Homo sapiens: one gene and its partner. The protein of the gene in region 1 purifies or fractionates together with the protein of each later gene. This does not show direct contact. Each region holds a gene or a part of one and is shown in the gene's direction. Other genes may lie near its edges.

The links. Proteins that work in one complex are often made in the same cells at the same time.
Region 2: the proteins of OR8B8 (region 1) and YLPM1 purify together in Homo sapiens (affinity purification with mass spectrometry; one large-scale study listed by BioGRID and IntAct). This does not show direct contact.

The regions. Positions count from the first base shown.
Region 1 is NC_000011.10:124,443,515-124,447,269, reverse strand, and holds the start of OR8B8 (olfactory receptor 8B8), read left to right. Parts: upstream 1-1,573; 5' UTR 1,574-1,694; intron 1,695-3,755. UniProt on the Homo sapiens protein: Odorant receptor. May be involved in taste perception.
Region 2 is NC_000014.9:74,783,790-74,787,444, forward strand, and holds part of YLPM1 (YLP motif-containing protein 1), read left to right. Parts: intron 1-3,655. UniProt on the Homo sapiens protein: Plays a role in the reduction of telomerase activity during differentiation of embryonic stem cells by binding to the core promoter of TERT and controlling its down-regulation.

The DNA.
Region 1 (3,755 bases):
AGTTTTCTCCTTCCCTTTTATTGATCATGGATAATTATATGGTTCCACCCTTTACCCTTAACTTGTAGTTTCTGCAATCACTTTTATTTACATGACTTCTCAATATGTGTCTTGATATCTTTTTCTCAGCTCTGATCTCATGCTGATGACTCACTACTGACCATTTGCTCTTACATGTACTTTCAGCACATGAAAGTCAGGTCTAAATTCTACCTCTTTATTTATCTCTTTACTTCCTTATTTCTAGGCCCTGGGGTTGAGACTTTAGTAACCTTTGACACTTGGTCTTCCCTCTCGATTCTTCCTTTATAACCATTAATCTAGCAAATTTATTAATCCTCTATCACTACAAATACTTGAGGCCTAAAGAGACAAGGTTGTCCCAACTAACAGATAAACAGGTTTGATTTTTTTAATTCAAGGAAATGTTCTTGTGCAGAGTAGGATAATAAAAGTAACCATTTAATATAACTCGTGAAAACTAATGGCATTAATATGTGTAAAGCATTTAGGATAGTTCCTAGCACATGGTCAGCACTTACAAAGTATAACATATTAGTACTAGTATTAGTATTCTTAATACTAATGATACTAAAATATGATTGGATGATGTTTTTTAAAATGTCAGCTTTGCACTTTGTGCAGATTACTCATTTTCTACAAATGACATAATGTATATAAAACTTTCTGCACAGTGGTTGATACATATGTGTTTATACATGGTAATTATTCCCCAACATAGACCTCCAAGGTCCCATCTAACTCTAGAATTCTATATTAAATACATATATAATTTATGCATAGGTTTGTATATCAATGAGTTGAAAATAATAAAAGTAAAGTCAGATTAAGTATAATGCAGAAACAGATTACTGCTGATATTGCTTTCTCAGGAGTGAATGAAGGCCATTTCAAATGAAGACCTTTCAGTTGCCATCTTTTTTCTCTGATCAGGTTCTGTAATTTCTTATGAAACTTGTACTTGGTCTTCTTGGTATGCTGTGATGGTTGCTGCAGTTGGGTCCAACCTTGTGCCACCAGAAGTCTGAGGGTTAATGTGTGTGTGTGAGAAACATTGTATTGACTCATATTCATGTGTCACATATGAAATCACACAAATTAGAATGTAATTTTGAAAAGTTAGGAAAAAATAGAAATAAATAAAACAAAGAAGCACTATACAGAAATCCAAGTTTTGGAAGGAGGGCAGTTCTGCAACAAAAGGAACAGAGTTAAGAATAGTTCTTCCTACACTGCTTCCTGCTTGGGCTTCATCTGCTCCTCAGGCAACAAGACTTTAGTAAAGCCCCAGTTGAGAGGATTTTGAAGAGTAGTTTCCATGGCAACAGGCTTTAAAATGACATACATCCAGAAGAACTTTTCTTGGTTGTTCTACCATCCAAACAGGAATCCTCTAAGGCTCCCAGAGAAAAGTCAACTTTTAATGAAGCCGGAGTCTTGCTTTCTGTGCCCTAAGGAGCACCTTTCCTGTGGGACTCATTTCATGCTTGTAATAATGACTTATTTTCTTAAATTGTGAGTTGACTACAGTGGGAATGAGAGCAAGGATTGAGGTTTCTCATAATCACTGAGGGAGTGGCAGATTTCTAGGTATAAGAGTTACACTTGAGGCATCTTGTTTCTGAGCAGTGACTAAAATACATTCCACATGTGGCAGAGGAGCAAGCTCTGAGGTATGTTCAAATGTTACCCAGCACTTATACACAAAACACACACACGTGTGTGCGCACACACACCCACTACACACACAGGACTGGAAGAAGGGTGGTAATTAGCTTGCTGCATGGAGGTCAGACAGCTGCCAATGGGGCTCTAATTGTGAAGCCACCACTTCAGCTGCCTTATCCTGACCAAAATGTACCTCTCATTAACTGAGTGCTGTTTGAAATTTCATAACTAGAGATCTATTTTTTTTTTGCTAAAGACTTTGTCTTCATTTTAAGAAATGCCTGGAAGAGGGTGAAGAATGTGGATTGTCCCCAGCAAGTTGTAGTAGACTGTGTGCTGATGAATTTGTGAGATTCTTCTTGAAAACTTAGTTTTGACAGAGAATTGAAGGAAAGTAGCACTAAGATTGTGAATGTTGGGGAAGAGGAATTTTTGCTGAGACTAGGAGACTAGAGATGGGTATAGGAAGAGAAAATGGGAGGCTGTAAAGAAACCCTTACCTGATTTTGGAATTTGGCTTTTGTGGTGTGATAGAATGTGGATATTTGAAAAATAGGCATTGGTGGTAGGACAGGAAGTAGGGACAGGGTAATATACTCAAGGGCCTGATGTTGTCTGTGGATTGGGTTATGTTGGAGAGACAGGCCTTAAAGTTTGAAGAGTGTATTGTTCCCAGGCTCTTCTCACTCTTGTCAGCTGTCTCCTCTGCCCTATGGCAGACCCTCTCTTGTCTCTTTCAGGCTCATTCAGCTTTAAGCAAGATTTTTCCTTCCCTCATGCCATCCCTAGGATATATGCATTTCATATTTGTTTTATGTCTATTTTCTACAGCATTTATCAGGGCTCTTTCTTTTGTCAACCACTCTTCTCGGCTCTTCCACTTTCATGATTTAATTTAACTCTCACAACAACGACACTGTGAATTATCGCCATCATCCCCATTTTATAGATGAGGAGATTGAGAATTAGAGATTAATGAACATTTTGTGAGCTATATGATTCAAAGATATAAAAGTGAATAAAACTACAATGTTGCTAGCATCATTATAGTTCATGGAGGGACAGGACAGTAATACATTGTGAGTAGAGCTGCAAGAGATCTAAGAACAAAGTACTGTAGGATTTGTCGTGGCTAATCCCTATTAAGGTGTGAGCCGATAATTATTTGAGATTACTCCTTCTGGCATTTAGGTGTTTTGATAGGTCATGCTCAAGACATAAAAATTCTCTGAAACATGGTACTGAATAATTTCAGGTCCTTGATGAATTTACTGATGCATATTTAGTTTCTTGTCCTGGAATCAAAGAGACTTGGGTGAGGATGCTTCCTCCCAGGTGGAGTAAGGAACATTTTGTTGAAACCTGATCCGAATACTGTTTTAGGAGTACCTTAGCTGGGATTTCCATAAAAAGCTGTGCTGGGGACAAGGCCATACATGCAGATAGCTTATTTTTAGAAGTCATCCCAGGGAAAAGAGAGAGAGAAAAACAGGGAAGTATAGAAAACCAATAAAAGGTTCTGTTATATGTTACCTTAATGGGGAATTTAGGATTAGTTCCTCTGAGATCTTTTGATGTACTAAGAAGAATGAACCACTGGAGATACACAAAAGGGAGACATTTACCCACTGACTCCCAGGGGTGTTAATTCCTTCACGCTTACAGATCAGCACGTGCACCATAATGGCTGAATGGATTCTCAGATGTACCACTTTGTGGTGGCAGAGGTGTCCTAGGGCTGAAAGGAGGGGATACGTAGTGTAGTCAAGAAACATTGTTATTGGGCTATAGCTGGATGCAGCTCACTGCCACAGCAACAGCAGAAGCCCAAAAGATAGGCTGAGTAATATAAAATGAGGCATAAAACATGTGCAACACAGAGAGCTTGGTGATGGGACCTGAACTCAGACCTGGTGAAAATATTCAGGATAGTAGGCAGAGAACAACACAGCTAGAAGACAGGGCCAGCGTTATGTGACTTGTCATGTGCTAAAAAGCTTAGAAAGGCCTTTTGCTCCATTTACCTGCTACTTGTTTTGAAAATTCATCCTTTATCTTATTGCTGG
Region 2 (3,655 bases), on another chromosome or scaffold:
AAGAAGCCTTGCTAGAGACTTTACACACATTATTATCTCATGGAAGTCTTCTCAACAACCTGTGAAGTAGGCAGATTATTCTCCATTTACTCTTAACAAAATGGCACTGAGAGGACTGCGTAACTTGCTCAGTCAGGATTATTTAGCAGAGTGAGTAGAACCCCAGAATAGGTACAGTTGAGTCTAGAGGGTCCCCAAAGCAAAAGTACTATTTAAGCTCTGTTTACTGCCATGATTCAAGCCTATACTGTCAGTGCTTATTTGGCATGTGTATCATCTTGATTTGAATTCGTTCTTAATCTCCTGGAATGAGCATTGCCTTTTAGATCTGGTAACTAATTTGCTATCAGAGAAGTACATTCTTAACACCTCATGAAACATACATTTCCTGCTCCCTTGATTTCCGTCATGTTAATATTTTCTCTCTTTGCCTACTAAATCTTGGCTGTGTGAATTTAGGACCTATTTTAAGTTTTGTCTTCAGAAGAAAATAACTTCTCAAGTTAATAATCTCTGTGCTGGGAGGATATTAGCAATTATCTAATATATCTGTCTACGGCAACGCACGTTTGTATTCCATTTCAGTTTGTCACAATGAGTCTTGCACATATCATCTTATTTATTCCTCTTAGTGATATCAGGAGGTAAATAAATACATAAGAAAAGCTGAGATTCAGAGAGGTTGTAAATACCTTGCCTCATATAACACAGCTAGTAAATGGTCAAGATGAGATTAGAATCCAAGGACTTCTGACCCACTTTAAGTCCATTGTACTTTCTGTGATGAGCAGTTGTATGCTTAACATTGGCATTGTGATTAGGAACACTGCCATATAAGGCATTGATTCTAGAAAGTTTGTTTTTTACATTGAACCTAAATGTGATTCTTTAACTTTTATCTGTTGATTCTAGATTTGCCTCTGGAGCAACACAGAATGAATTATCCTATGCCTCTTCTACAGCATGTCACTACAGTTATTTAAAAACTATTACCCTCATGTCTCCCTCACCCTACCTCACCCAGTTTGCTCTGCCAATCACAACTCAGATTCTTTTCATCTTAACATTGTTTCTAACCTCATCCTGCTGTACTGCTCACTGTCCTTTGAAGGGCCTTTAGTTTGTTAGTCTCCTTCAGAATGAACACTTACTTCAGATGCAGAGGAGCATGGGCCTAGTACCAACTTCATTATAAATAATGTGCTTATATTGTATAGCTTAACAAATTGCTTTTTTGTTTGTTTTTTTCAGCACTCTCACAGTGTTGACTCTTGTTGAACTTAACATCAATCTAGCTTCCCAGGTCTTTTTCACATTAGCTTTTATTAAGCCAAGTCTCTCTTATCCTGAACTTGTGTGGTTGGTTTTTTGTTTTTGTTTTTCTTGTTCCTTTTTCTAAGACTTTACATTTCTCTTTAGATTGTTTTCTAGTTAGGTTTGCACCATCATTTCAGTCTGCTGAAATCTTGGTCAATGATGATTATATTGTTTTAGGTATGTGATATCCCTCTTCAGCATTTTCATCTGCAGCTTTGATAAGGATGGCTTTTTAATCCTTGAATTGGATCCTACTCACATTATCCACCTTGTTTTGAAAACGTTTCCCCTAACTAGCTTATGTCATTGCCATTTCAGTCACCCCCTGCTGCTTTTGCTCACTCAGCCCTTATAGAGTATAGTTTGGGACTGTTACCCAGGCATAGTTCTTTTTCTCCAGTGTAACTAGGTAAAAAATCAGTGGGAAGCTGGTTAGTGAGTGAACAAGACTGAGGTAAGAATAATCTATACTATTAAGGAAACCTGTGAACTTCTTGTATTTCTAATTCAGATTTTGCTATCAAACATATAACTGATATGAGAAGCCACTTTTTTTAAATAATCAAAGCTGATTAGAAAAACAAGAGTTTAGAACACAACTAAACAAATTTACTGATAACATGCTGTTACAAATAAAGTACTGTAAATGGCTTTGAGTTTTTGCAAAATCCAGATTTAAGCTGCTTTATAAAAACGAGATTTCTAAAAAGTCATGTGACAAAACTGCATGACATGTAAATAACATATCACATTGTTGAGAGTCTAGGGGAGCTGTTTTGACACTGTGTATATCATTGGATTCACTCAGTCTTCCAGAAGACTACCGTTGGTCCAGAAAACTGTCATATCAATGGATGTTGGTTTTCCAGGACCTTTTTTTTCACATATAATAAAACTTATTGAAACGTAACAGAGAAGTGCACAATTTTAAGTGTTCAGCTTAGTGAATTTTCACAAAATAAAGACACACATTGGCCAGGTGCGGTTGCTCATGCCTGTAATCCCAGCACTTTGGGAGGCTGAGGGGGGAGCGGATCATGAGGTTAAGAGTTCGAGACCAGCCTGGTCAATATGGTGAAACCCCATCTCTACTAAAAAATACTAAAATTAGCTGGCATGGTAACATGCGCCTGTAGTCCCAGCTACTTGGGAGGCTGAGGCAGGAGAATTGCTTGAACCCGGGAGGCGGAGGTTGCAGTGAGCCAAGATCGTGCCACTCTACTCCATCCTGGGTGACAGAGTGAGACTCCGTCTCAAAAAAAAAAAAAAAAAAAAAGGCACACATGGTATCACTACTAGATCAAGAAATAGGAATTACTGGTGCCCAAGAAATCTCCCTCATCCCCCTCAGTTATTTTCTAATACCCCAAAGATAACTGCTATACTGAGCCATAGATTAGTTTTGCCTATTTTTGAACTTCATGTGAGTGAAATAATACTGTATGTACTCATGAGTCTGGCATCTTTCACTTGACATTGTATTATTGTGAGAGTCATCCATGTTGTGTGTAGTAGTAGTTTATTCCCGTTCCTGTACAATAGTTCATTGTATGAATATAACACAATCTGTTTATCCATTTTAATATTAATGGTCATTGAAGTTTTTTGGTTATTATGAAAAGTGCTGCTGTGTGTCTTTTGATGCTGTATGTGTCCCTTTAGATGTATGTGTTTGTTTGTGTGTGTTTAATTTTGTTTGGATATCTATTAAGGATTGGAATTGCCTGATTATAGAGTATATACATGTTCTGCGTTAATGGGTATTGTTAAACATTTTTCCAAAGTGGTTGTTTCAGTTTATATTCTCACCAGCAGTGTTTCAGTGTTTCAGTTTTTTTGCATCCTTATCAACACTTGGTATTGTTAAACTTTTAAGGTTTAGCAATCCTAGTGGATGTTTAGTGGTATCATGATAATGGATTTAATTTACATTTCCCTGATGACTAATGAGGTTTCACTTTTTTTATTTGATTATTGTTAATTTGTATTTCCTCTTTTATGAAATGCTGATTCAAGTCTTTTTCCCATTTTTTGACTAGGTTTTATGTCTTACTGATTTTGTAGGAGTTCTTTGTGAATTCTACACATCAGTTTTTTATCCATTATATGTATTACAAATTTCTCACTGCAGGACTTTTTATTTTCTTAATGAGCACTTGAATGTAAACGCTGCATGCTGGGTACAGTGGCTCATGCCTGTAATCCCAGCACTTTGGGAGGCTGACGCGGGCAGATCACTTGAGGTCAGGAGTTTGAGACCAGCGTGGCCAACATGGTGAAGCCCCAGCTCTACCAAAAATACAAAAATTAGCTAGGCATGGTGGTGCACGCTTGTAAT